4 linked regions of the Homo sapiens genome follow. The protein of the gene in region 1 interacts with the protein of each later gene in a pairwise test. Each region holds a gene or a part of one and is shown in the gene's direction. Other genes may lie near its edges.

Region 1 (7,028 bases):
GACCTACGGAGACAATTCTGTGATGTGGGAGGTAAATCTGTTTCTGGTGGGTCTGCTGCTGAAAATGGGGCGGGAGACTAGTCCGGGGAAATCTTGGCCTTTGCCCTTTTGGGAGAGTCCTGGTCAGAGAGAGAGGACATCCAGGGCAGATATCTGTGGTTTGTGTTGCCTGTAAAAGGAAGGAACGGCCAGTGTTTGCTCCATGAGGATAGCACCTCTGCATGAATTCTGTGTTTTGTGGGTGCCTTAAGTCATTTTAGTCTGGAAGATTAGCAATGGAATATACATTTAAAGAATCAATATGTTGTATTATATTTATAGACAAAACTAAATGCTTTAGATATTATAGAGTGCTGAAACTATGCTAAAGAGAATAAAAACAAGTTTTAAAATTCAATATTATTCACCTATAAAATTAGTCAAGGATTAAAAAAAAAATAACCAGATACTCTTCAAGATCTAGTGATGATATATTAGGGATATGCTAGTGGGACTGCAGTTTATTACCTGCAGGAGAAAATTTGTCAGAATGTATCAGATACCTTAAAATGTTCAAAGTCCCTTGACCCTGAATTTCTACTTCTAGGAATATAGTACAGGAAAATAATCTGAAATTGAGGCTATGTGGAATATGTTAATCCTAGGGTTGTTTATAATAACAAAATGTTGGAGACAGCGAAATTGCCAGCAGCAGAGAAAGAAGTAATCTTTCTTTGTTTTTTTTTTTTTGTTTTTTTTTTCTTGAGACGGAGTTTTTGTCTGTTACCCAGGTTGGAGTGCAGTGGCGTGATCTCAGCTCACTGTGACCTCCACCTCCTGGGTTCAAGCAATTCTCTTGCCTCAGTCTTCCGAGTAGCTAGGATTACAGGCATGTGCCACCATGCCCGGCTAATTTTTGTATTTTTAGTAGAGAGGGGTTTCACCATGTTGGCCAGGCTGGTCTCGAACTCCTGACCTCATGATCCGCCTGCTTTGGCCTCCCAAAGTGCGGGGATTACAGGTGTGAGCCACCAGGCCCGGCCTTGAAAGAAATAATCTATAGCTCCATTAATATGCATGAAACCTAACTGGGAGTAAAATATAAAACTATTCAGTTGTGTTTAAGTGGTGGAATTAAATAAAACCTTTTTGTTTCACTTACCTCTGCTTATGAAATTAACATGTGCTCACTATAGGAATTTGGGAAGCAAGAAAGTGATAAAAGTAAGAATCTTTTAGAATATGTCACATTAGGCAGGCTCAGTGGCTTACACCTGTAATTCTAGCACTTTAGGAGGCCAAGGTGGGAGGATCACTTGAACCCAGGAGTTTGAGGCCAGCCTAGGAAAGAGTGAGGCCCTGTCTCTACAAAAAATTTTTTTAAAAAAATTTGCCAGGCGTGATGGTGCATGCCTTTAGTTCCAGCTACTCAGGGGGCTAAGGTGGGAGGATCATTTGAGCCCAGGAATTCGAGGCTACTGTGACCTGTGATTGAGCCACTGCACTCCAGTCTGGGCAACAGAGTGAGACTCTGTCTCTGAAAAAAACAAACAAACCCAATATGTGACATTACCTAGAGAGGTGTCCTTAAACTAACAAATCTATGTTGGCATAAGTAAATTTATAAACTACTTGTAATGACATAAAAATCAGAATGATAGAAGTGTATTTGGTGGACTCAAGTGTGATATTTAGGTTACAAGTATTAAAAAATTTATTTTATAGATTAGACCAAAAAAGAAGTACAATACAAACTTCATGTCTTATTTCATTTAGATCTTTGAAGATGGTCATTTGAGCCACTTTATAGATGGAAAAGGAGGTACGGGGAACTGGATGTCCTATGTCAACTGTGCCCGCTTCCCCAAGGAGCAGAACCTAGTTGCTGTGCAGTGTCAAGGGCATATATTTTATGAGAGCTGCAAAGAGATCCATCAGAACCAAGAGCTCCTTGTGTGGTATGGAGACTGCTATGAGAAATTTCTGGATATTCCTGTGAGCCTTCAGGTCACAGAGCCGGGGAAGCAGCCATCTGGGCCCTCTGAAGGTGAGTGCACACCCTCGCCTTGCCCAATGAGGGCATCCCAGTAGAAGGACTGGGCTCTTTTCCACAAACCCTCCATGCACAGCTCCTCCCTCCTAAAGGCTAATGCAGAGGACTAACCGAGAGTGTCTCTAACCAGGGGGGAATTACCCAGGTGAAGGAAAGCATCCTCAATTTCCCAAAGCTGCGGAAGCTACTCCTATTTATAAAGATATATACTCCTATTTATAAAGACTTGTTCTTCTTCCCTACCTTCCACCCCAAGAGTAAAAGAAAACGTACTAAATGGATGTAACTTCTACCATAGGTGAGCCAGTTTCTGATTCATCTCTGCCCAGGCTAATGTAGCTGAAGTCTAATCACTAGAGCAGTGTTTTTCAAATGGTGGGTTGCAGAGTTGCATGTCTTAGTGGGGTGGGAAATCAATTTAGTGGTCAAGACCCACATTAAAAAAAAAAAAAAGTATAGAGTAGAATAGAAAATATTGATGGGAATCCCTTAAGAGTAAGGATTGTTTTGTGAAATTTCTATTTCACATGGGTATATGTGGGTATGGTGGGTGTCAAGCATAAAATACATTGCCTACTATGGGTCTCAGGCAAGTTTGAGAAATACTGAGCTGGACTCTCACTCTCAAACTTTAATGTGGGAATGAATACCCAGGGATCTTCATGATGCTGGTTCTCATTCAGGGTAGGGGCCCAGGATTTGGTATTTTTATCAACTTGCAGGGAGTGCTGCTGGTCCTGGTCCCTGGTCCACATTCCAGTAGCAAGGGGCGAGGGAACCACCAGCCCACTCTAGGGGTGAGACTTTGGAATTTGCATGTTAAATAAGCTCTCCAAGTGATTTCTATATACACTGAAGTTTAGGAACTACTAATCTAGTAGGTGGGACAAGATAAATGTAAATTCCTGTAAATAAGAGAGAAGGCAGGCCGGATACTGTGGCTCACACCTGTAATCTCAGCACTTTTGGAGGCGGAGATGGGCGGATCACTTGAGGTCAGGACTTCAAGACTAGCCTGGCCAACATGGTAAAACCTCATCTCAGGTCGGGCACAGTGGCTCACGCCTCTAATCCCAGCACTTTGGGATGCCGAAATGGGCAGATCACCAGGTCAGGAGATCAAGACCATCCTGGCTAACGTGGTGAAAACCCGTCTCTACTAAAAATACAAAAAATTAGCGGGGCGTAGTGGCACACACCTGTAGTTCCAGCTACTCAGGAGGCTGAGGCAGGAGAATCATTTGAACCCAGGAGACAGAGGTTGCAATATGCCAAGACCGCACCACTGCACTCCAGCCTGGGCAACAGAGTAAGACTCCGTCTCCAAAAAAAAAAAAAGAGAGAGAGAGAAGGCAAATTATTATGATGTAATAAATGTGTAAGGAGCAGGTTTAAAAAAAAAATGGCCCAGGCGTGGTGGCCCACGCCTGTAATCCCAGCACTTTGGGAGGTGAGGCGGGCGGATCACGAGGTCAGGAGATCATAGCCATCCTGGCTAACACGGTGAAACCTCTTCTCTACTAAAAATACAAAAAAATTAGCCGGGCGTGGTGGCGGGCCCCTGTAGTCCCAGCTACTTGGGAGGCTGAGGCAGGAGAATGGCGTGAACCCAGCAGGGGGAGCTTGCAGTGAGCTGAGATTGCGCCACTGCACACCAGCCTGGGCGACAGAGCGAGATTCCGTTTCAAAAAAAAAAAAAAAAAAAGTAAATTGCATCTGCATGCCTGTTTTCCTGCTAGGCTGAGATGCTTCAGGGCAGGAAATAACCCTAAACACTTTAGTATCTCGTGCTTCTGGATCCCAGTGCGTACTGACTGAGAGGAAGACATTAGAACTAAGCTAGAAAAAGCTGCTTAGGGATGAGATGAAATAAGGCACGTGTAAGAGGGAGAGAGGGAAGGCAATCAGGCTCAGGGAACAGTGAAGCAGAAGGCAAGGAAATGTCCAGAAATTAGGGGGTAAATAATAAGCAGTCATTATTTATCTAATGATAAATAATGAGCAGTCAGCCGTCATTATTTATCTAATGATAAATAATGGTCCCAATGATGAGGGGCTGTCAGGATTGTTTTGGTGAACTATCTTCCTACTCCCCCAGGTATCTTATGTCCATGCTGGGTTCCCCCCGCCACTGAACCATCATAAGCCCTCATTCTGTTGCTTGTTCTGATCGCCTCTGATATCTGCATACAGGTTGAGTATCCTTTTTCTGAAATGCCTGGGACCAGAAGTGTTTTGGTGGGTGGTGTGGGTGTGGGAATGTAGGTGAAGATAGGAATGGAGGCAAAAATGGTTGGGATTCTCTATGATCTGTGGAGCTCTAAGTTGTCTCCTACTTAGCACCAAACCAAGACCTGTTGGTCACTTCCTGAAATGTACCAACTCCTTTCGAAATAAAAGTCAACAGGCTGGGCGTGGTGGCTCACACCTGTAACCCCAACACTTTGGGAGGCCAAGGTGGTTGGGTCACCTGAGGTCAGGAGTTCACGACCAGCCTGGCCAACATGGTGAAACTCCGTCTCTACTAAAATACAAAAAATTAGCTGGGTGTGGTGGTGCATGCCTGTAATCCCAGCTACTCAGGAGGCTGAGACAGGAGAATCGCTTGAACCCAGGAGCAGAGGTTGCAGTGAGCTGAGATGGCGCCACTGCACTCCAGCCTGGGTGACAGAGTGAGACTCCATCTCAAAAAGAAAAATGAAAGAAAGAAAAGTGAACAATGGATTTGAGAAAAGTATCTGCTTAGTAACTGGCAAGATGGTTATTATCCTTTTGAGAAATCATTATTATTTTTTGAGATAGGGTCTCACTCTGTCACCCAGACTGGAGTACAGTAGTGTAATCTAGGCTCACTGCAACCTCTGCCTCCAGGGTTCAGGCATTTCTCCTGCCTCAGCCTCCCGAGTAGCTGGGATTACAGGCATGCACCACCACACCCAGCTAATTTTTGTATTTTTAGTAGAGATGGGGTTTCGCCATTTTGGCCAGGCTGGTCTTGAACTCCTGGACTCAAGTGATCCACCCACCTTGGCCTCCCTAAATTCTGGGATAACAGGCATGAGACACCATGGCCGGCCATTTTTGAGAAATTTTTTCACCGTATGTATCAAATTATTACAATGTTTGTAACTTTGATGTCTCAGTAATACTCTTCTGGAAATCTATTATCGAGAAATAGTCCAAAAGGAAAAAGCTATGCTTATGAAAATTTTTAACTGTGGCACCACTCTTGTGAGTGAAAAATCACAAACAACCTAAATGTTCAGTAGTATAATAATTAAGTAAATGATGATACAGGCTCAGCAGCTCCAATCAAGAAATCCCAAATCCAAAATGCTCTAAAATCTGAAACTGAGCACTGACATATTGCCAAAAGTGGGAATTTCCACACACCAGTACTTGACACAAACTTTGTTTCATGCACAAAATTATTTAAAATATTGTGTAAAATTACCTTCAGGTGGGCCAGGCACGGTGGCTCATGCCTGTAATCCCAGCGCTTTGGGAGGCCGAGGCAGGCAGATCACCTGAGATCAGGAGTTTGAGAACAGCATGACAAACATGGTGGAACCCCGTCTCTACTAAAAATACAAACAAATTAGCTGGGCATGGTGGCAGATGCCTGTAATCTCAGCTACTCAGGAGGCTGGAGCCGGATAATCGCTTGAAACCGGGGGCGGAGGTTGCAGACCGAGCAAGATTCCGTCTCAAAAAAAAAAAAATTACCTTCAGGCTATGTGTATAAAGTATGTATAAAACAAAACATAAATGGACTTTATATTTAGACTTTGGTTCCATCCCCAAGATACCTCATTATGTATATGAAATATTCCAAAGTTCGAAAAAAACCTGAAATCCAAAACACTTCTGGTCCCAAGCATTTCAGAAAAAGGATACTCAACCTATTTGTTATTAACATGGAATAGTATGCCGATATCAGAGGCAATCAGAGCAAGCAACAGAATGAGGGCTTATGATGGTTAAGTGCAGGGGATACCCAGCATGCAGATAAGATACTTGTGTTCCAGTTCTGAACCAAGTGATACCTGATGCTTACAGCATTATTATGAGGACATATATTTTGGACAATGGAGGGAAACTTGTAAACAACTTAATTTGTTGGGAATAATTATAAATGAATGTTAATTTGTTAATCTGTTAATATGAATGGTTTGGATGTGATAAAAAGGAAAGAAAAATTAAAATTCCATTGCATTCTCAAATGAGTTTTTTTCCCCAAAGGCTTTTTGGTGGGGATTGGTGGTAGGTGGGAGCCTTCCTCTTTAAGGTCTTGAGTGGTGAGGGAAGGGTCTAGACTCTATGTGGGCGGGTTATTTGAATATGCAAGCATTCCCCTCTTGTGAGGGAGAGAGGGAATTTGGGTGTGTGTTTTGGGGTGTGGAGGTGTGAAGAGCTAGGGGGAGGGAGGATAGGGAACAAGATAAAATTAGGAAGGATAGGGAACAAGATGAAATTAGGTTTCATTTCTACCTAAGTGGTTGTTCTTAAGCGAACTCAGTATTGAAACTTTATTCTGAATTTTGGTGTGCTTTAGTGCTTAGGTTTGTAAAATTGCTGACCCTCTCTTCCCTTCCCACCCCAGGAAGCAGGAAGGCCAGGTATTTCTGACCAATAAAAATTCTACCTCTGTGCCAAAAAAGTGTCCCAGCACGGGGATTCTGAGAGTATTAGCACCTCAATGAAAGTGATAGACAGAGCAGGGCGATGGATCAGCTTGGGGCTGGCAGTTGCCTTCCTGGTTATTTACTTAATGAATAGTTTATTTCCTTAGCCACCTGTTAAACGTGCCTGGGATGTAGTTGTCAACTAACAAAGCCCCTGATGGACAGCTTCCCTGCTGTCCTGATGCTGAGAAGATTTCTATCTGCAGACTCTTGCATAGACTCACTCTTGGCTGCTCTTCCTCCCTGGGGTCAAACAATGAGATCTCTGTGGTGCATTCATAGTCAAAGCCACTTTATCCTCTGGGATCCAG
Region 2 (7,879 bases), on another chromosome or scaffold:
AGAAGGGGTCGAAGCAACGCAGGGGTTAACTTTTCTGAAAACACAATTAACTTTTTCCAATCCTGCGTGGGGTGGGGGAGAGACATATTTATTTAATCACCCGGGAGTGGGGTGGTCTCAATCTAAACGTTCCCTCCTCCCTCAAAGGCACTGAGCCTGTTTCACAGATCCTACGTAGGTGGAACAGGACGCGTTGTGTTGTTGGGGGGAGAGAGGAGAAAGGCGAAGGAGAAGGAGGAAAAAAAAAAAGGTTGATAGGTTTGTGCGCGGGTCCCTCGTGCGGGCTGCGCTCCTCCTGGGTGCTATTTGACAATTCCTGCCTCTGCCATTGGTCAGTGTTGGATCAGATGGTTGTATTTCCTTCTGGCCCTCACTGGCACCTCGCCATCCCCCCTCAGCTAAAACCCAATCTCGGATATACTACTAATAGGCGCGGCGCTCGGACTATAAAACACAACAAATCATAAACCCGGCGGAGCAGCAGCGGCCGCGCGCGCCTCCCCTCCCAATGAGTTCCTATTTCGTGAACTCCACCTTCCCCGTCACTCTGGCCAGCGGGCAGGAGTCCTTCCTGGGCCAGCTACCGCTCTATTCGTCGGGCTATGCGGACCCGCTGAGACATTACCCCGCGCCCTACGGGCCAGGGCCGGGCCAGGACAAGGGCTTTGCCACTTCCTCCTATTACCCGCCGGCGGGCGGTGGCTACGGCCGAGCGGCGCCCTGCGACTACGGGCCGGCGCCGGCCTTCTACCGCGAGAAAGAGTCGGCCTGCGCACTCTCCGGCGCCGACGAGCAGCCCCCGTTCCACCCCGAGCCGCGGAAGTCGGACTGCGCGCAGGACAAGAGCGTGTTCGGCGAGACAGAAGAGCAGAAGTGCTCCACTCCGGTCTACCCGTGGATGCAGCGGATGAATTCGTGCAACAGTGAGTGAGACTTCCCGTCGCCGTCGCCCCGGCTCCCCTGGGCGCCCACCCCGGGACACAGAACTAGTGAGCGCCCCCTGCCCCAATCTCCCACAGGGTGCTGGGTGGGCATCTCAGTTAGGAGATAGAAGAAGATTGGGCGCCGGCCGGGGGTCTCTCGCTGTGTCCCCTATTAGGCAGGAGTTACAAAGTTTGCAAAGTCCCAGCCGCACTGGGAGCCATGGGGAGCAAGTGTGCTCTCCTGGGGCGCCTGGCCAGAGCCGGGGTTCCAGGACAGGGAAGGGAGCAGGAGCCTGCAGTCACTGGCTTGGCTTTACTTTGAGCCCCCAACCCCCCTCTCCCAGCCCTGGTAGGGTTCCCCAACCAAAGACGGCTCCATTAAAAACGGAGTGCGTCATGCAAGGGGGTAGGGGGTGACGCTGAAGAGAAAGAGTTGAGTCTGTCTGGGACTGTGTTTCCCTGTGGGTGGGGAGCTGGGGCAAGATGAGGCACCAGGAAAGGGGTGGTAGTCAGAGGAGGGAGGAGGAATAAGGGGAAGGAAGAGAGAGGGAGCAGGCGGAGCGAGAGAGGGAGAAACAGGCGCGGGGTCTCAGGTTGGATTATTTGTTGGCCTTAAGTCCCAACTGATGTCCATTAGCCGGACTCGAAAGTGAGGAGCCGTTAATGTGGACTATGGATCGATCTACGTCATTACGGATTAACGGCCTGGATTTATCATTGGGTTGGGGGGATGACGGGGGGTGGGAACAAGATGGATGGAAAGGGAGGGAAAGACAAGATGCAACTAGGAAGAGACACACCTGACCAGCCCCTCCCCCCAGGCTCAGGTGGGAGTTCAAACTGCTCCTCCCCTCCCCCATCTAGAGTCTAGACAGACGGCACAGGCCTAGGAGACTAGGAGGGAATCTGGAGGGGGCGCTGGAGGAGTGCGAAACGGGGGAAGGGAGCCGGCAGAATAGAGGGCATCCCGGTACTGGCTGGAGTCTGTGTTCGAGGGTCGACTAGGGGAGGGGGTCCTGGGCCCGGTGACCGCAGGCCTCAGCATCTCCACTCTGCGTAACAGGTTCCTCCTTTGGGCCCAGCGGCCGGCGAGGCCGCCAGACATACACACGTTACCAGACGCTGGAGCTGGAGAAGGAGTTTCACTACAATCGCTACCTGACGCGGCGGCGGCGCATCGAGATCGCGCACGCCCTGTGCCTGACGGAGAGGCAGATCAAGATATGGTTCCAGAACCGACGCATGAAGTGGAAAAAGGAGAGCAAACTGCTCAGCGCGTCTCAGCTCAGTGCCGAGGAGGAGGAAGAAAAACAGGCCGAGTGAAGGTGCTGGAAAGGGAGGGAGGACGCGAGGGGAAAGGCCTGTGGGGAGCCGAGGGCGTCAGAGAGACCCGGGAAGGAAGGCTCTCGGGTGGGGGAGCCAGGAGACCTGCTCTCCGGCGCAGACAGGCGGGGCCCAGCGCTCTCCTGGACGCCCCCGCCCGCACAGCTCCCGGCGGGTGCTCTGAGGCCTCACTACTCGAGCCCACCCAGCATCCCGCGCGCCCTTCCTTCCCGAGGAACTCGCCTCAGCCTGATCAGGCTTCCTGGTGAGAACTGAGGAGCGGACTCACTTGATGTTTCCTGGAAGCAGAGCAAAATGCTCTTGTCCCTGTCGCGTCTCATTTTGTCCATGTCCCCCGTGCACGGTTCAATGGTAGATTCGCTGTCCCCTCAGCGGGGGCCTTGAAGACTCCCTGATCCCAGACCTGTCGTCTCTCCCACCCCCTCCCCAAAGCCACTGGAAGGAGCACATACTACCTAGAAGTAAGAAGAGGAGCCTCAGAAGAAAACAAAGTTCTATTTTATTAATTTTCTATGTGTTGTGTTTGTAGTCTTGTCTTAGCTCTGGACGTGAAATACTTCGATGATGATGATGATGATGATGATGATAATAATAATAATAATAACAACAACAACAACAATAATAAAGATGTGAAAACTCGACGCTCGGTCACCTCCAATCCTCCCCTGCCATTTTTTCCTCTCTCCTCAACCCCCAGCCTCTCCATCTTTCCTGAGCCAGAATTCTTCAGCAAAGGCGAGAGCCCTGGCCCGCCGAAGCGAGCCCTGTTCGACTGGGAAGTTACAGCTGAGATAAAGGCTGGAGCGATCAGTCCTGCCCAGGCCCCAGCGCTGCGTTTCCCTGGTGCTGAGGCTCACAGCCGCTTCTCCCCGTGCAGACTTGGGGGATGGAGAGGTGCTGTGTCCCTCTCATTCTCTAGCCTTTCCTCGTGTATACACAGCACTAAGGGAGCCACTGAGGCCCCTAAAGCTCTCTGGCGGAGACGGAGCCATAGTCTGGGGGCCTCTGCAGCGCTTTTCTGTCCTCACCTTCGCAGCGACCCCTGGTCTTTGGCCCGTCCACATGGCCAGGTTTTTTCGCCAGCCTTGGCCCTCCGCTCCTGGCCTGTGGCTCTGGAGACTGAAAAATGGGGCCACTGGGTATCTCTCACCCTGCAGCTGAAGGCTCCAGGTGCCCCTTCCCACCTCAAGTAGCAGATCAGCCTCAAGTAGGAGATCAGCCTCAAGTAGGGGAATGTAAAGCCACCAGCCAGGCACAGGCCGAAGGCCACAACTTTCCCTTGCTCCTTGGAGACCCCAGGGCAGGAGGCCAGGTGATGGGGCTTTTAGTGTCATCCTCTCAACCCAGAATGGCTCATTCTCTCTCTGCTTGCACCGGCACCCAGAAGGCAAGCTGCGGTCACTGTTTTCCTTTATTCCTCCGCCCTCTCGCTTCCTTTCTTATTTTTAAAGAAAATAGTCCCCTCCTAATAGGAGACCAGCTGCGGCGGTCTCTGGCCGCCCAGCGTGCTCAGCAAAGCATGCGGGTCCTTGGAACCCCTTTTCCGGGAAGGCGGCTGCCACCAGGCAAATTCTCAAACTGCCTAGCTGCGAGTGAGGGACCTGTAGTGGGGCCTCCGAATGCAATAGCCGAGGAGGAGGGGAAGGGATCCCGCTTTACAAACTCTCAGACACATGTTACTACTCAAACTAAGCAGCAGACGCGGTGGCCGCTGCAGTCTTTTCGGCAACTAGGCCGCTTAGCCCCAGCTGTGCTCGGTTTCTGGGGTCCCTGTCCTGCTCTGTCACTCCCCACGCCTGGGCTAAGGACCACCAAGGAGGTCCGGAAGGGGATTTCGAACTTCCAAGTGGCCCAGGAGAAGTGAACGCTTCTCCTTCTTTTTCAAGCCTCCCGCCCAGCCCTGCCGGCTCGGCCTGGGCGCTGTGGACCGGTAACAGCAGTTCCACCAGGATGCAGGCCGGACTAAGCTCCTGGGGAAAACCCGTTGCAATAATTGTTTTTCACACACAACTTCCAACCCTTCCCCCATTTCCGCCTCCAATTCGGAGACTTGCAAAGCCCAAGAAAGGGAAAAGCAACTCTATCTTTGATCTTCTCATCCAAAGTTAAAATAATAACGACAATGATGATGTAGGGAGAAAGAACCAAATAGAGAGGCTAACCCCACCCACAAGAAAGTGGGTAAAAAGCCCAACCCCTGCTCTAAAAGGCTCAACCCTGTGGCTGAGCCTTGGCCGGGTTTCTTTCTCTCCCGGCGACTGCAGGGAGCCTGCAGGGAGCCAGCAGGGAGGCAGCCGCCCGCCGCCATGGCGGTCTCACGCCCGCGCTCCCGTCGGTCGCCGGGAGGTGGCGCGCTCTGCTCAGAGGCCAAAGCCAACCTTCTCTCTGTTTCTCCCCCTTCTCCTTTTTTCCCCCTCTCTCGGAGGCTCGCATTGAATCGGCCCTAACGATTCTCGGATCGTCATTATTTGTAACCATAGAGCATGAATTACCTCTTGAGGTCATCAGCGAGAATTTACGACTGGTCAACAAAAGCACGTGATTCCCTAACGCCCCCCACCCCCCTTCCAACCCCCCCCCCATATTTGGCCGCATACATAGCAAAACGAAGTACAGTGCATCGCTATAATTCATTAATACATCATAAATCGTGAAGCACAGGGTTATAACGACCACGATCCACAAATCAAGCCCTCCAAAATCACCCAAATGAGCTCGTACTTTGTAAACTCCTTCTCGGGGCGTTATCCAAATGGCCCGGACTATCAGTTGCTAAATTATGGCAGTGGCAGCTCTCTGAGCGGCTCTTACAGGGATCCCGCTGCCATGCACACCGGCTCTTACGGCTACAATTACAATGGGATGGACCTCAGCGTCAACCGCTCCTCGGCCTCCTCCAGCCACTTTGGGGCGGTGGGCGAGAGCTCGCGCGCCTTCCCCGCGCCCGCCCAGGAGCCCCGCTTCAGGCAAGCGGCTTCGAGCTGCTCCCTGTCCTCGCCCGAGTCCCTGCCCTGCACCAACGGCGACAGCCACGGCGCCAAGCCCTCTGCTTCGTCCCCCTCCGACCAGGCGACCTCAGCCAGCTCCAGCGCCAATTTCACCGAAATAGACGAGGCCAGCGCGTCCTCGGAGCCTGAGGAAGCGGCAAGCCAGCTAAGCAGCCCCAGCCTAGCTCGGGCGCAGCCAGAGCCCATGGCCACCTCCACAGCCGCGCCCGAGGGGCAGACTCCGCAAATATTCCCCTGGATGAGGAAGCTTCACATCAGCCATGGTAATTCTCTCTCTCTTTTTTGTCTTCTCGGCTTTCCTTCTCTGCGTTTTGGGGTGGGATCGGGGGGACAAGGAGAGCTTGGCTTTACCCTAAATATAGATTCATTTTTCTAAGGGGGAGAAGTATCTAAGAGGGGCCTCATAGCTTCGTAGACAGAGCCAAAAAGGGTCTCTCTGTTAAGAGGGGGGTATTTTTAATAATTTGTTTCCAGCTTCGGCTTAGGTTTTTATTAGCGCAGCTGAACCAGCTTTAGGATAAAGGATGGGGTTCATATAATGTGGGGAAGGGTCCTGCTTACCCCTGAAATTTTGAGACTGTCGCTAGCAAAGAAGGGGTGAACAGTAAAAGGAGCTTTCCGGGGCAAAAGTGCAACCGCTCTCCTCCCTCCCGGGGCGAGCGGCCGCCTGAGCCCAGCCAAGGGTGAGGCACTAGGAGCGAGCAAGAGACAAAGCCGGGCGCACTGGCTGCCTGCAGAAGTGGGGGATGCAGTAGAAAGGGGTGCAGAAATCGAGCTTGAATGTGGGCATCTGGAGTAGAGAGGATTGGAGCTGTGGTGAGCTGGGTGCCGGGACGCCTGGGTCCTGCTCCCCCGCCCCCTCCCACCCAGTGCCCCCTCCCTTAACCGGAATAATGTTGCCTTGCGGCTTTCCTCTATCTGCTCCAGATATGACCGGGCCGGACGGGAAAAGGGCCCGGACCGCGTATACCCGCTACCAGACCCTGGAGCTGGAAAAGGAGTTCCACTTCAACCGCTACCTGACCCGGCGACGGCGCATCGAGATCGCCCACGCACTCTGCCTGTCCGAGCGCCAGATCAAGATCTGGTTCCAGAACCGGCGCATGAAGTGGAAGAAGGACAACAAATTGAAAAGTATGAGCCTGGCTACAGCTGGCAGCGCCTTCCAGCCCTGAGCCCGCCCAGAGGAGCCCAGCGGCCCAAGAGCCCGTGCCACCCCCAGCCCTGGCCCCTCCAATCCTCCCCGCTCTGCCGCCGCCCGCTGGGGACCGGTTCCCACAAGCCTGCCTCGCCTTGTGTTACGATATTTCGTTTGGTCTTAGGTCTTCCTGTGGCTCCCTCTCTCCTGGACTGGTTATCTTGTTATTATTGTTAATAATAATTATTATTATTATTTTCCTTCCATGCTCCCAACTCCCTTCTGCTTGTCCCAAATCCGCCAGTGTTTCTGAATGTTTGTGTCTGTGGTTGCAGTCTTTCCCCCAGGAAAAAAAAAAAAAGAAATTCGCATGTTTAATGTGAACTCTCCCCTCCCCATCTGTGTTCTAACTTATTTATAAAAAGATGATCGCTGTATTTTGAGTTTCAGCTGGAAACTTCTGTAAGGGGCAGCAGTTGAGGTGGGGTAGTGCCGCAGTGGGGTCAAGCTGAGCTGGCTTCGGAGATGGAGTCCCTTTTCATTCTCCTCCTCCTCCCTCCTCACTCCCTAGGCCCAAGTCTCCTAGGGGCTTGGTCCTAGGGTGGGAAGGGGCTAGGGAGGACCAAAGGGATGGTATTGAGAAGAGAGAAAGAAGATAGTGAGATTTAAGTTCCTGCTGCCTGGGTAGGCCCCACAAGGCCTGGTCTGGGAGTATACGGAAACAAAAATGATCCTCAGTGCAAAATGTCTTGTGTATTTCTCTGTGAATCCATGGGTCTGGCTAGAGGGCCCAAAGCTTGTAAATATGGGGATAGTCTGGGTCAGACCCATCTCTCCCTTACCCATCTTGCTTCCAAGACCATTTGTAGTGAGCGAGTGGATGCTGTGCTACGTGTGAAATCTGTCTTTGCGGGGCCTGTCTCAGTGATTCGCTTTTGGTATTTGTTTGTAGCTTTCCTGGAAGTCAAATAAATGTTTCCCCCACTCCATTGCCCTTCCACTTGTCTTTTCTCCGAGGGGTCTGCCTCTCCCATCCCGGGCACACCCTGCACCATTCTCAATAGATCTGGGGTGCAGGGAAGAAAAAGTAGGCTGCTCCCCAACAACTCTTCTCAGCCATGTAAGTCACTGGCTTGGTCAACAGTGCTTGGGCCAGGGAACAGACCTTCATGCCTGGGGGACTCCAAGGCCCAGAAACCCCATGTGGGGCTGGGGCAGAGGAAAGGCTGAGCTAGACTTCATCCTGGTCTTCCACTAGCTGGCCAAGGAAGCCTCTGGAAAACTCTTCTGGGAAAGTAATTTGGGCCTAAGTCCTCAGCAGGAGGCTCCTGGCCTTTTGGGAGTGGTAGAGGCCTGCCCAGCCCCCTGTCTCCTACTCCAAGTCCCAATTCAGCTCTGCCACCAACTAAAGCAAAAAAAAAAAAAAAAAAAATTCAGCTGGATTTCAAAGGATTTCTCTCACCCTC
Region 3 (6,972 bases), on another chromosome or scaffold:
GCTGGATGGATGTTAGCCCCATTTGGCAAACAAGGGGCTGAGGGTCCCTGATCTGTTTTTTTTTTTGTTTTGTTTTGTTTTTTTTATGGAGCCTTGCTCTGTCTCCCAGACCCCTGGCTGGAGTGCAGTGGCACAATCTTGGCTCACTGCGACCTCCACCTCCCAGGTTCAAAGGATTCTTCCGCCTCAGCCTCTTGAGTAGCTGGGACAACAGGTGCGTGCCACCACATCCAGCTAATTTTTGTATTTTTAGTAGAGACGAGGTTTCACCATGTTGGCCAGGCTGGTCTCAAACTCCTGACTTCAAGTGATGCATCCGCCTCAGCCTCTCAAAGTGCTGGGATTACAGGCGTGGGCTACCCCATCTGGCCTCCGATCTTAATTAAGTTGTCTAAGACCATAAATCTCTAAGTGGCAGAACTTGGATCTGAGTTTGGGCTTCTAGTCCAAGATTCCCAGTATACCATGAAGTTTCCTACGAGCATCCATCACTTTAGCCATACCTGCTTGCTTACGGGCACTTTGGGGAATGGACACCACATCCCTCTCACATACTCAAGACCAGCTATGTAGTCTGTGGAGCCCAGTGCAAATTGAAGTACCCTGAGCCCCTTATTCAAAAATTCTGAATTTGAAGATAGTAACAGAAAAGCATTAAACTAAGCACAGGCCCCTTGTAAGTGCAGGGCTATTTGTGACTGCACAGGTCATTCACCCATGTGGTGGGTGACCTGCAAGTAATTCCCTCAGCCCACATCACCCTGTACCACCACCCCTTCACTGGCTAACTCCTTTCCTTCCTTGGAGACTCAGCTCAAATATCACTTCCTCCAAGAAGCCTCCTTCAACTGCACCCAGTCTCAAGCTATACTAAGCCCCTCTGGTCCCTCAAGGCATCCTGTCCTGGCACTTACCAGACCATGCTATATCATTCTGGTTATTGCATGATCCCCATCCTTTCACCCCTGACCTCCACATGCCAGACTGGGAGCTCCTTAAAGGCAGGGACTGTGCTTTCCAGCTCTGCGTTCCCAGAACTTAAACACTGGGACAGACACCTTGCAGGTGCTCAAAGAGTTTTGTGGAATGAAGTAGAGGAAAACCAGACTTGGTGAGGAGGAACAGCAAAACCCAGTCCGAAGGAAGGCAGGCTACTGGGGAGCAGTCAGGTAGATGAAGGTACCAAAGAGAGAGGGTTGAGGAAGAGGAGCCATGGGTGTGTCAGGGATTTGGTGATGGTGAGGACCACAGCCAGTCAAGGCAGGATAAGGAGCACTGTCAACAAACTGACTAATCCAAGAAGGCCTCCTGGAGTGGGAGCTCCATATGCCTCCAAGAAGTGATTTGGGGCTCAGGAATACATAAATAGATCCAACCTGCCCACACGCTCTTCTCTGGGAGTCAAGGAACTGGGTTGTGACAAGTCAGGGAAGTATAGATTCTTTGTCTCTCTGCCCAGCCCTCGGCTCCAGCCTTTCTTAGAAACTATAGGCATGGTGGCTCAAGCCTATAATCCCAACACTGTGGGAGGCTGAGGCGGGAGGATCGCTTGAGCCCGGAAGTTCAAGACCAGCCTGGGCAACACGGTGAAACCCCGTTTCTACCAAAAAAAAAAATTTATATATATATATATATATATATATATATATATATATATATATATATATATGAAAATTAGCCAGGTGTGGTGGTGGCGCGTCAATAGTCCCAGCTACTTGGGAGGTGGAGGTGGGAAGATCACTTGAGCTCAAGAATTCAAGGCTGCAGTGAGCCGAGATTGCACCACTGCACTCCAGCCTGGGTGACAAAGCAAGATCCTGTCAAAAAAAAAAAAAAAAAGGAAGGAAGGAAGGAAGGGAGGAAGGAAGGGAGGAAGGAAGGGAGGGAGGGAGGGAGGGAGGGAGGGACCAGATTTGTGACTTACAGTAGGTTGATGGTATCATCCTCCAAGAAGTTGACCAAATTGCCCTTTGAGGCTAGTGGGAGTCCTTTGGTAGTGACGGTCCGGTTCATAGACTTGGGGTTTGAAAAGGGTTTTGGCAGTTGGTCAAGGGCATTCATCATGTTGAAGTTTTCTTTCTTCAGTACAGCCTCCTCCCCATCTCCCACTTGATGGAGTGCCTCTGATGCCATCTGATTTGTTCGGGATGACACCCGTCACCATGCAGGACAACCCAGCTGACCAGAAGCAGAGAGAAACTGTGGGGGCAGTGGCCCACCTTTAGTTTGGACAGTCTGCAGGTGCAATGAGCTGACTTCATAATCATCACAGAGTGTAACAATTACAGGCCAGCCTCCCCCCTTGATTTGAGGCTACTGCTGCCAGGCTAGCTATGTGGCTGGCCAGACCAAGGGCCAGTGTGACTGTGAAGCAGCATCATGAGAGGGGTAAAACCAAGGAACAGACTGCATGAGCCCTTGGGCCCCTTCCAGCTCTAATACTCCATGGTGATGGCAGCCCTGCCCTTCTCTGAAGATCTCAAAATGCCTGACACCTGTGTCCTTCCGCACTGCCCTGGGAAGGAGAATAAGGATGGTGAGAGATGGGCGTGGGATGTAGAGGATGGTGGTGTGGCCCTGAGAGATAGGCAGTATTGGAAAGTGTCTGCTGGGGAGGGAAACTTTGTCCGTAGAAGCTAAGGCTCTCTATCCTGAAACCATAGGCTGCAGACTCCACTGTGCCCAGTCGGTTAGTGAAAGGGAAAGCCCACATGGTTCATAGGGGTTCATGGCTCACATATGATCAGACTTCACTGCTAGAATTCTAAATGTGCCACACCCACACTCCCAAGTACTTTCCTGTGTGGAGTGACAATGGTGGCAGTTGCAGTGGGATACAGAGATGGGCCACACATGATCTCTGCTCTCAGAGAAACCACCTTACAGTAGGAAAACATGTACACAGCTTCAGGGGTGGGGAGGGGGGCTGTTAGAAAGCACTGGCTTTGCAGAGTCAGATGTGGATGTGAAGTCCAGCCCTGTGCCGCCTAGCTGGGTGACCTTTGGCAAGTGATTTAACCTCACTGAACCTCAGTTTCTTCATTGGTGAAACAGGGATAAAAAATAGCGCCTCCCTCACAGATTTGTGATGAGATAACCATGTAAAGTTTTATTTCTTCCTATGGATGAGGCAAAGCAAAGGACATTTAAAAATACCAAATCATATCTTTTTGTGTGTGTTCTATATAACCAAGGTTTCTTGCCCTTAAAAAAAATAAAAAATAAAATAAAAAATAGAGGCCGGGCACGGTGGCTCACACCTGTAATCCCCGCACTTCGGGAGACCAAGGCAGGAGGATTGTTTGAGCCCAGTAGTTCGAGACCTGTGTGGGCAACATGGTGTAACCCCATTTTGTAGAGGCGAAACCTCTACAAAAAATACAAAAATTAGCTGGGCAAGGTGGCACGTGACTGTAGTCCCAGCTACTCAGGAGGCTGAGGCAGGAGGATCGCTTGAACCCAGGAGGTCGAGGCTGCAAAGCTGAGATCTCACCAGGGCACTCCAGCCTGGGCGGCCGATCGAGACCCTGTCTCAACCAAAACAAAACAAACTTTTGAAAAATAGACGCAGGTGCCCTCTGGATGCTTTGCTGCTTCTTGACACCTGTCGTATAATCTGTAATGATGTGATTTCTGCGATTCCTTTTCATTGTCTGTCTTTCCCTTGCTCACAGTAAGCTCCCTGGGGGTAAGGGCGGGTCGTCTTGTGTCGCATTTTGTCTCCAGCGGAGATCCGTTCCGTTTGGAACGGAAGCTGGCGCACAGAAGGCTCTTTAGAAGGTCGGTGTGTGTGTTGCGGCAGAAGGTAGAGGCCGAATGTGGCCGCGGGTGGCGTGTTGAGCGCGGAGGGGGTCGTGGGACTCGGGAACCTGTGCAGGCGGTGGAGAGGGGCGCAGCGGCTCTGCCCCGTGCGGCCCGCAGATGGCGCTGCAGGCCAGGTCCTCGCCGCGCGCCAGCCTGGAACCCGGAAGCGGCAGCGCGGCGCGACCCGGCGGGCGGGCTCTGGGCGCGGGAATCCCGGCGGATCCCGGGCGGGCGGATGACCCCCAGCCCTACCCTTGGTGCCGCCTCCTCCTCTCTCCTTTCTCCTCCGGCAGCCAGCGCGCCTGTGTCCTCTCTAGGAAGGGGTAGGGGAGGGGCGTCTGGAGAGGACCCCCCGCGAATGCCCACGTGACGTGCAGTCCCCCTGGGGCTGTTCCGGCCTGCGGGGAACATGGGCGTGCTCAGGGTCGGACTGTGCCCTGGCCTTACCGAGGAGATGATCCAGCTTCTCAGGAGCCACAGGATCAAGACAGGTGACCGGGTGTGCGCGTGCCAGGGAGCCGCGCGGGCCTCGCACAACCTGGGCAGGCCCCGAGGGCTGGCGCACTGCCCTGGCATACCTGCAGGGCGCTTCCCCTCCATTCCTAGAGGGCCGCGCTTCTGGAGAGGCTCAGGAAGGGTGGGCGTGGGGAGCCAAGCTCTAAAACAGGGTAGAGATTCCTACTGTGTGCAGGGCACCGCGCCGGCTCCTGCAGCTTTGTTATTTCACACTGGCCTCCTGAGACGGCCTGCCGGGGGGTAGAATTGACACCCCATTTGACAGATGAGGAAAAACCAAGTGTGGGAGGCCCCAGTCCTCTCTGCCAATCCGCTATACGTGTTTTGTTTTCAGTGGTGGACCTGGTTTCTGCAGACCTGGAAGAGGTAGCTCAGAAATGTGGCTTGTCTTACAAGGTGAGCTCCTGATCTCCACATTCCAAACCTGAGTGTCTTTTTAAAAAGTCCATCCCAAGCCAGCTGGGCGCGGTGGCTCATGCCTGTAATCCCAGCACTTTGGGAGGCCGAGGCGGGTGGGTCACTTGGAGTCAGAAGTCAGGAGTTCGAGACCATCCAGGCCAACATGGTGAAACCCTGTCCCTACTAAAAATACAAAAATTAGCTGGGTGTGGTGGCCCACGCCTACAATCCCAGCTACTCGGGAGGCTGAGGAAGGAGAATCATTTGAGCCCGGGAGGCAGAGGTTGCAGTGAGCCGAGATCGTGCTACTGCACTCCAATCTGGGCGACAGAGTGAGACCCTGTCTGAAACAACAACAATAACAAAAGTCCATCCCAAGCCAAAGGGAGCAGAGGGTTCTCAGATATTGAGAAGTAGGGTGAATGACACCCTGGGATGCCAGCTTCTACGGGCAATTTGTTGCTGAGCAGTCTGGGGCCCTTTGGCAGGCCCTGGTTGCCCTGAGGCGGGTGCTGCTGGCTCAGTTCTCGGCTTTCCCCGTGAATGGCGCTGATCTCTACGAGGAACTGAAGACCTCCACTGCCATCCTGTCCACTGGCATTGGCAGGTTTGTGTGTGTACTTGGGGAAGAAGGAGAGAGGCAGGAGGATGGGGCCTCCTCTCAGCTCTGCTTTTGATGCTTGAGTCTAGACGGGAGGGGTTTTTTTTTTAACCAATAATGGATGGGAAGGAAAGGGGTCAGGACATCTGAATTCTTATCCTATAACAGGGTTATGGGGTATCTCAGCCTTGGCACTATTGATATTTAGGGACAGGTAATTATTTGTTGGGGGGTGGAGGCTGTCCTGTGCAGTGTAGGATGTTTAGCAGCATCTCTGGCCTCTGCCCACTAGATGCCAGTAGCACCAGCCCTGCTCCAGTTGTAACCATCAAAAATGTCTCCTGACATGGCTAAATGTCCCCTGGGAGGCACAATTGCCTCTGGTTGAGAAGCATTGTCCTATAACACAAGCTGTCAGTATCTCATTATTTTCACCATCTTCTCTGGCCCTACTTCTTATTTTACTTAAGGATATGGCAAGAGAGAACATTTACTGAGTGCCTACTATGTGCAGGCATTACCTGTATGTTCTAGGTAATCTCTTCAGTGACTCTACCAGTTAGAGATAATTAACCCTACTTGAGTTTAGCCTAAGAGGAGCAAGTGGCAAAGGTGAGGCTCAAGCGCGGGAGTATGTGGCCCAGAACTTATTCACCACATCTGCAGCAGTAGAGAACAGGAGAGTTCAGAGAAAGAAGGAGTTGCGGTCCAGATGCAGTGCTCATACCTGTAATCCCAGCACTTTGGGAGGCTGAGGCGGCAGATCACTGGAGGCCGGGAGTTTGAGACCTGCCTGGCCTGCTTGCCCGCCCAAAATGATGAAACCCCGTCTCTACTAAACATACAAAAATTAGTCGGGCGTGGTGGCGGGCGCCTGTAGTCCCAGCTACTTGGGAGGCTGCAGCAGGAGAATTGCTTGAATGTGGGAGGTGGAGGTTGCAGTAGGCCAAGATCGCACCACTGCACTCCAGCCTTGGTGGCAGAGCGAGACTCTCTCAAAAAAAAGGAGCAGTTATGTCCCGCCACGTTGTTTGGTGGGTTGGGGAAGAGTTGCAAAGACGACAGACGTTTGCTGGCCAAGTGAGTCTTGACCTTTTTCCTGGTCTGTTTGTTCAGAAATTGATGAATAACTGCCACCATAAAGGTCTTTGGATTGGTGTGGCCCTTTCTGTTTCCTTAACACATTCTCTTGGCAGGGTTCATGCAGTGTGGTGCTTGCTTTCCCTGGTTGGGGGTCTGAGTCTGTGATCCATCAAGCACTGGCTAAGGGCCTGCTGGGTGCTTGGTATGTGCAGATGATACATACACGAATGAGGCAAGGCCCCTGCCCTTAAGGCCTCTAGTTGGGTGTAGGGGAAAATCAAGTGAATACAAGAGAGCTGTAAGCACCGAGGGAGGCAACGGTAAGGAGGGAGTGGTGAACAGGAAGCCGATTGGCCTTGGGCTTAGGGAGTTTATAAATCCAACAGACATGGAGGGCGCACTCAAGTGGGAACCTGGGAGGACTGCAGCTGCCTCAGGTCCCCGCAGGGAGATCGTGGAGTGGGGTCAGGAATGCTCTGAAGAAGGCAGGACTTGGGCATGGAGGAACAGATGGACTTTCGCTGAATGCTTTCGATGAACGAGGCACTGCGGTCAGCACTTCACGGTAC
Region 4 (7,502 bases), on another chromosome or scaffold:
ATAATGAATGTTGTGTAGCTAAGCTTTGGTCAGAGGAAATAATCTAAAGGTTTTGTGAATTCATGTAACCTTTTGGGCTGCTCACCTTAAGGTAACTCCTGTATTAACAGGAGGAACAGAATAGGGAAAAAGATCTCAGTTCAGTGATGTAGCTTTGTGACCAGCCAGTGATCCAGTTCAATCAGGTAGAAATGACCTTCCTGCTACATCAATATTTGCTTCTATGGAGGCTAGTTTCCCCACTTAGGGCATGAGAAGAATTGGTAAAGTCAACATAAAATTGCCAAACCTGTCACCAAAAATGATGGCAAATCTGTATTTTTCTCTTAAACCGTGTTATAAAAGCTGTAATAAGGTATAGGCTGAGCATCATGGCTCATGCCTGTATTCCCAGCACTTTGGGAGGCCAGATTCCTTGAGACCAGTGTGGGGAACATGGCAAAACCTTGTCTCTAGGAAAAATAGCCAGGTATGGTGGCATGTACCTTAGTCTTAGTGATGTGGGAGGATTGCTTGAGCCTGGGAGGCAGAAGTTGCAGTGAGCTAAGATTGCAACGCTGCAGTCCAGCCTGGGTGATAGAGTGAGACCCCATCTTAAAAATAAAATAAAGATATAAATGACATCCAATAAAGTACACATATTTGAGCTGTAGGATAAGTCTTGAATTTTATTATAATCCCGTGAAACCATCATCAGAGTCACCATAATGAATTTATCTAATCTATCACCTTTGTATTTACTTGGAGCCTTTATAAAGTTTTTCTCTCTGCTCTTCAAACAACCATTGATTTACTTTGCTGTATGATGGAGTACTTTCCATTTTCTGGAATTTTCTGACTGATGTAATAAAGTGTTTCCTCTTATAATCCCTGGGTGCTCTCCTGCATCATGCTTATTTTGATGTCATTGTAGATATATGAGTTGTTCATTCGTTTTATGTTGCTGAGAAGTATAGTCTGCCGTGAAATGTCATTGTATATTCATTCATTCATCCATCCATTTATGGATATTTTAGTTGCTGCATACTTTTTTTTTTTTTTTTTTTCAAGACTCTCTACCAGGTTGGAGTGCAGTGGTGTGATTTTGGCTCATTGCAACCTCCACCTCCCAGGTTCAAGTGAGTCTCCCACCTCAGCCTCCCACGTAGCTGGGATTACATGCGTAAGCCATCATGCCCAGCTGTTTTTTGTATTTTTAGTAGAGATGGGGTTTCACTGTGTTACCGGGTTCATCTCAAACTCTGGGCCTCAAGTGATCTGCCTGCATTGGCCTACAAAAGTGCTCAGATTACAGGCCTGAGCCATGAGCCACCGCACCTGTAATTGATTCTGAGGCCAGGCACGATGGCTCACGCCTATAATCCCAGCACTTTGGGAAGCGCAGGTGGGTGGATCACTTGAGGTCAGGAGTTTGAGACCAGGCTGGCCAACATGGTGAATCCCCATCTGTACTAAAAATACAGAAATTAGCCAGGCATGGTGGCGCATGCCTGTAATCCCAGCTACTCACTCAGGAGGCTGAGGCAGGAGAATCACTTGAACCCAGGAGGCAGAGGTTACAGTGAGCTGAGATCACACCACTGCACTCCAGCCTGCGCAACAGAGTGAGACTCTGTTTCAAAAAAGAAAAAAAAAAATTTATTCTGAGATAATCCCAGTTCCCAGTGTGAAACTATTCCTGCAGTCACTGGAAAATAATAACCACTTTCTTGTAAGGAGATGAAATTTTGGAGCTCAGATGCCGTGTTTATATTGTTATTCAGATGGCCTTTTTAACCTGTGCTTTAATGGTGAAAGTTGTAGCGACTGATGTGTGTACCACAATGGCATTGGCTAAGTTGCTCGTCCTTTGAGATAGATGTCAATGTGATTAAAGAAATTGAGTACACCTTAGCATATGAATTAAGAAACATATTGACATAGTGATCCTCATAGTGACATAGATCAGCAGGACTTGTGTTCTGAGCACTGGTCATGACCCTGCTCATGATGAAACAGGATCTGGTCAAAACAGGATGCACTAAAGAAACCAGCTGAAAGCAGTAAAACTAAGATGGCAAGAATATGAACTCTAGTTACCCTCATTGCCTCACTGCTCATTATATGCTCATTATAATGTATTAGCATGCTAAAAGACACTCCCACCAGCACCATGGCCGTTTACAAATGCTATGGCAATGCCCAGAAGCTACCTCATGTAGTTTAAAAGAGAAGGAACCCCTGGTTCTGGGAACTCCCCACTCTTTTTCTAGAAAATTCATGAATAACCCACCTCTTATTTAGCACATAATTAAGGAGTAGCTATAAATATAGCTAGCCAACAATCCACGGGTGCTACTTTGCCTGTGGAGTAGCCCTGCTCTGTCTGTGGAGCAGCCATTTTCCTGTTCTCTTGCTCTCATAAACTTGCTTTGCCTTCACTTTACACTCTTGGCTTGCTCTTGAATTATTTCCTTTATGAAGCCAGGAACCCTCCTGGATTGAGCCCCAATTTTGGGATTTGCTAGCATCACTAGAGCAATTTTCTGTGGGAACCAGTGGCCAACTGCCAGCTTCACTACCTGCTTCAGGGTGTACCAACATCCGTCTATTTCCCTGTCATTAGATCTTTATTATTATTTTATTTTTTTGAGACGGAGTCTAGCTCTGTCGCCAGGCTGGAGTGCAGTCATGCGATCTCAGCTCATTGCAACCTCTGCCTCCAGAGTTCAGGCGATTCTCCTGCCTCAGCCTCCCGAGTAGCTGGGACTACAGGTGTCTGCCACCATGCCCAGCAATTTTTTTAACATGGGTTTTGCTGTGTTAGCCAGGATGGTCTTGATCTCCTGACTTCATGATCTGTCCACCTCGGCCTCCCAAAGTGCTGGGATTACAGGCGTGAGCAACCGTGCCCGGCTAATTTTTTTATTTTTATTAGAGATGGGGTTTCACCATATTGGTCAGGCTGGTCTCGAACTCCTGACCTCATGATCCACCTGACTCAGCCTCCCAAAGTGTTGGGATTATAGGCATGAGCCACTGCACCCAGCAATTTATTTATTTTTTATTTTTTATTTTTTTTGAGACAGAGTCTCACTCCTGTTGCCCAGGCTGGAGTGCAATGGCATGATCTCGACTCATCGCAACCTCCACCTCCAGGGTTCAAGTAATTCTCCTACCTCAGCCTCCCGAGTAGCTGGAATTGGAGGCATGCAGCACCATGCCTGGAAAATTTTGTACTTTCAGTAGAGACACGGTTTCTCCATGTTGGCCAGGCTGGTCTCGAACTCCCGACCTCAGGTGATCCACCTGCCTTGGCCTCCCAAAGTGCTGGGATTACAGGTGTGAGCCACCATGTCTGGCCTTTATTTTTATTTTTTGTGGGTATATAGTAGTGTATATATTTGTAGATTACATTAGATATTTTGATGTAGCCATGCCATATGTGATAATCACATAGGGTAAATGGGGTCTCAGTCACCTCAACATTTATCCTCTGTATTATAAACAGTCCAGTTATACTCTTTTAGTTATTTTTAAATATATAATTAAATTATTTTGACTATAGCCACCCTGTTATGGTAGCAAATATTAGGTCTTATTCATTTTTGCTCACTGTTTTTTGTACCCATCCTGTCATCATGTCTTATGGAGAATTTTCTTTTGTTCCCAACAAAACAATGAAACTCGCAAAACTGACTGTAATGATTCAGTCTACGTGAATTTAAAGAGCAATCAATACTTAATGTTCTCAGCTCTGAGTGCACACATTGTAAGTCTGAATGATGCCAATGATATGGCCACTTAGATAAGTAAAGTTTGGGAGCATCTCAAATAGTATTTTTATTCTCTGGGTGCAGGATGAGCTTCCTAGAGTCTGATGTGATACCTATTTGATGCTTTTACAAAGAATCAATAATCTTCCTCCTTTGAGGTGTGAGCAGGGCTTTCCAGCAGCCCTCAGAATGTAACATGGTCTGCATTCGGTTTGCTCTTGGAGGATACCACCATTGTTGGCTGAGAGCTCTGGGAAGTACTTTACCCAGAAGGCGCTAGTTGCAAGGCCCAGGATGAGGGATTTCTGGGCATGCTTGTCAGGCCAGGGAGTACTGGGTTGGGACTGAGAAGGCACAAGAGGAGTAGTCATCTCTGCTCCCAAGTGGCAGGTCTGAGGCTCATAGGCACTGGCTGGGGTGATGCCTGCTCCACCCACAGTTGATGGCAGCAGCCACACTGAGGGACCTAGCTCAGGTAAATGCTGTGTATTACAGGCTTCACCCCAGCTAGAGTAATACAGGTAGAGGAACCAATAGGTACAAAGGCTTGGAGGTGCATCTGAGCCATGAACATTTCAGAACCTGGTAACCATGTTGTGTCATGGAAAGTGGGGAACTACATTACCCAGAAAGCTCTGCTTTAAACGACAGCCGGTCAGAGCCAGTGAGCACTCGGAAAGAAGGCATTTCCACGTGTGCACGTAACGTAAGGCCGAGACTTCCGGGGTCTCTAGTAGCGGCTGTGTATCGGCGATGCGGGTGTTTCCCCAGTTTGTGGCCCCTGAGTGCTGGGTGGGACCGCGGTGACTGAACCTAGAAGGTGGAGAGGAATCGTCCTCGGTGCCCAGAGGCGGCTCTGCAGCCCCGTGACGGCGACCACTGCTCCCGGGCCGTGCTTCCCCAAGTAGTCCGATGGCAGCGGCTGTGCCGAGGCGCCCAACTCAGGTAATTGTGGTGCCTTCTGTGCCCTCAGGTCACCCCATCGTCACCCAGGTCCTAAACCAGCGAGGGAGCGGCTCCTGCTCGTGGGTCTGTAGCCGGTACCCGGCGTAGGAACACTGAGGCGCTCACAGGAGGCCTCTCCTTGTAACCGTCCAGTGGGTTCACGTTGCCAGCTGCCTAGACAGAGCCGATTTATGAAGACTGGGGAATTGCGATGGAGAAATAGTAATTCACGCAGAGCCGTCCTGCTGTTCGGGAGACAGGAGTTTTATTATTCAAATCAGTCTCCCTGAGCATTCTGGGATCAGAGTTTTCAAAATTTGGCGGGTAGGGGCTTGGGAAGTGGGGAGTGCTGATCAGTCTGGTTGGAGATGGATTCATAGGGGGTTAAAGTGAGTTTTTCATGCTGTTTTCTGTTCTGGGTGGGATGGCAGAACTGATTGACCCAGATTACCGGTCTGTGTGTTGTCCGCTGATCCATCCAGTGCAGGATCTGCAAAATGCCCCAAGCACTGATCTTAGATATTGGGGAAACCAGCCCCACACCACCCAGCAGATACCCCGAGTCCTGCGGAGACAAAGGAGTTAGAAAGAGACAGAATACGCATTTAAAAGGCGGGTCCAGGTGGCCAGAGCATTGGAGGCTTCCTGGCGGCCCAGAGCTCTTGGGCTCCACCCAGTTTATTGGTTTACAAGCTCTTTGTTCTTATGGCTGATTGGAGGGGGAGGAAGCGATCAGGAAAAGGATTAATCAGTAAAGGAGAACTCGTGAGTCATTCCATAAGATGTAAAGCACTGGCCGTTTCTGTGAATTTCCTTGAACAAAGGCGTGTGTCTAAACTACTTAAGATCTTTAACTTAACTGAAACGGGTGGCTGCGGGTTTCAGGAGGAGCCAAGATGTTTGATTATGCTCCACTGCTTCAAGGGAGTGTGATCTCCCTGAGCAACCCATGGAATGCTGCTGAAGAGTTATGCTCTCGGGGCATAAAGACATGAAGGCAATAAGGAGACTTTTCTCCTCAGAGGCCGCCCATGGCTTCCCATGGGTGTCTCACACAGGGGAGACCAACTCAACTAGCACCCCAGAAACTCACATTAGGTTTTACAATAGTAAGGTTATCTTCAGGAGCAACTTGGGGAGGTTCAGACTCTTGGAGCCAGAAGCTGCATGACCCCTAAACCGTAATTTCTATTCTTGTAGCTAATTTGTTAGTCCTGCAAAGACAGGCTGGTCCCCAGGCAAGAAAGGGGTCTTTTCAGGAAAGGGCTATTATCAATTTTGTTTCAGAGTGAAACCATGAACTGAATTCTTTTCCAAAGTTAATTCAGCCTATGCCCAGGAATGAAAAAAGACGGCTGAAAGGTTGGAAGCAAGATGGAGTCGGTTAGGTCTGATTTCTTTCACTGTCATAATTTCGTCAGTTATAATTTTGCAAAGTCGGTTTCACCTGTTTCTGACACCAGTGGGATGCAGTGGGGAGAGTGACAGGCACAGGTAGGGGTGCAGGCAATGGCCTGCAGATGGACAGAGCTGGAAGGATGGAACCTGGGGTTCACAGGCATCTGTCAGGAACAACGTGTGAGATGGAGCTCTTCCTGGTAGAGCAAGCAGGCCAGGGGCTGTGCATTCATCATGAGGATTCTAGAAGCCATGGAGAGTTTTGAAGAAAGGAGGGACATGATCCAAATCCAGGCTTTTAAGAAGTTTCCCAAAGGCCAATCAAAGGAAGAACATCATAGAGAGAGAGGATGAGGACTTTGGGGCCTTGGGAGGTTGAATCCGTTTTGTAGATCACATAGATGGTAGAGATGACATTTTGCACTGAGAAAAGCAGGTCAGACAACCAGCCTTAGGGTTACCTGGTTCCAGGGACAAGAAAGGGTTCAGGGAGTCCTGAGCTTATCAAATCCTGTGACATGTTTGTAATGTCTGCCTTTCCCCTCAGGCACTCCTGGCTGCAGAAGCACTTAGGGAACCCACACAGGGAAGTGGAGGGTGTTCCATTCCCTCATTGGTCCTGACGCCATCTACAGGTTCTCTAGCTTGTGGTGTCCTGGGACTCTTAAGTGCCATTTTTTTCAGTCCTTTGATCCGAGGACCCTGGAGAATCTCTGAAGCCAGGATACCAAGTCCATGACAGGTTATATGGAGGTATTCCCATTTCTGTCAACCAATGTAAACACCCTTGTAAGATTAACCCAGGATTTGCTACCAGGTTGTGAAATGCTTAGAGATAAAACGGATCAAAGTCAGGAGGTGATATTACCACAGTTCTACCTGGCTACAGGCTTCATCTGGCTGGACCTTGTTGCATAGACTGTGGGTTGAGGGAAGAGGAAGAAAGGTCAGAGATAAGGCTCCTGCCATAATCCAGGTGAGGGTTAATGGATCAGATAAGTGGTAAATCACATGGGTCTGGATTCAGGATTCACTTTTTGTAAAGAGACAGCTAGGTTTTCTTTTTTTTTTCTTAACGTGGAATTTCAGTCTTGTTGCCCAGGCTGGAGTGCAATGGCGCAATCTTGGGCTCACTGGAGCCTCTGCCTCCCAGGTTCAAGCAATTCTCCTGCCTCAGCATTCAAGGTAGCTGGCATTACAGGCACCCACCATCATGCCCAGCTAATTTTTGTATTTTTAGTAGAGACGAGGTTTTACCATGTTGGCCAGGCTGGTCTCGAACTCCTGACCTCAAGTGATCGTCACATCTCGGCCTCCCAAAGTGCTGGGATTATAGGCATGGACCAATGCGCCCAGCCGAGACAGCTAGGCTTTTTTTTTTTTTTTTTTTTTTTTTTTTTTGAG

The links.
Region 2: the proteins of PRDM14 (region 1) and HOXB5 interact in binary tests that used the Homo sapiens proteins (3 or more experiments, as listed by UniProt).
Region 3: the proteins of PRDM14 (region 1) and RAD51D interact in binary tests that used the Homo sapiens proteins (3 or more experiments, as listed by UniProt).
Region 4: the proteins of PRDM14 (region 1) and ZNF587 interact in binary tests that used the Homo sapiens proteins (3 or more experiments, as listed by UniProt).

The regions. Positions count from the first base shown.
Region 1 is NC_000008.11:70,061,233-70,068,260, reverse strand, and holds part of PRDM14 (PR domain zinc finger protein 14), read left to right. Parts: coding exon 1-31; intron 32-1,755; coding exon 1,756-2,026; intron 2,027-7,028. UniProt on the Homo sapiens protein: Transcription factor that has both positive and negative roles on transcription. Required for the maintenance of embryonic stem cell identity and the reacquisition of pluripotency in somatic cells.
Region 2 is NC_000017.11:48,590,780-48,598,658, reverse strand, and holds HOXB5 (homeobox protein Hox-B5), read left to right. Parts: upstream 1-4,879; 5' UTR 4,880-4,976; coding exon 4,977-5,538; intron 5,539-6,202; coding exon 6,203-6,450; 3' UTR 6,451-7,402; downstream 7,403-7,879. Other genes in the region: HOXB6 (homeobox protein Hox-B6), read left to right, coding at 431-923, 1,987-2,246. UniProt on the Homo sapiens protein: Sequence-specific transcription factor which is part of a developmental regulatory system that provides cells with specific positional identities on the anterior-posterior axis.
Region 3 is NC_000017.11:35,116,855-35,123,826, reverse strand, and holds the start of RAD51D (DNA repair protein RAD51 homolog 4), read left to right. Parts: upstream 1-3,966; 5' UTR 3,967-4,213; coding exon 4,214-4,295; intron 4,296-4,654; coding exon 4,655-4,716; intron 4,717-5,207; coding exon 5,208-5,326; intron 5,327-6,789; coding exon of another isoform or gene 6,790-6,968; intron 6,969-6,972. Other genes in the region: FNDC8 (fibronectin type III domain-containing protein 8), read right to left, coding at 1,925-2,133. UniProt on the Homo sapiens protein: Involved in the homologous recombination repair (HRR) pathway of double-stranded DNA breaks arising during DNA replication or induced by DNA-damaging agents. Bind to single-stranded DNA (ssDNA) and has DNA-dependent ATPase activity.
Region 4 is NC_000019.10:57,845,372-57,852,873, forward strand, and holds the start of ZNF587 (zinc finger protein 587), read left to right. Parts: upstream 1-4,487; 5' UTR 4,488-4,667; coding exon 4,668-4,700; intron 4,701-4,943; exon of another isoform or gene 4,944-5,190; intron 5,191-7,502. UniProt on the Homo sapiens protein: May be involved in transcriptional regulation.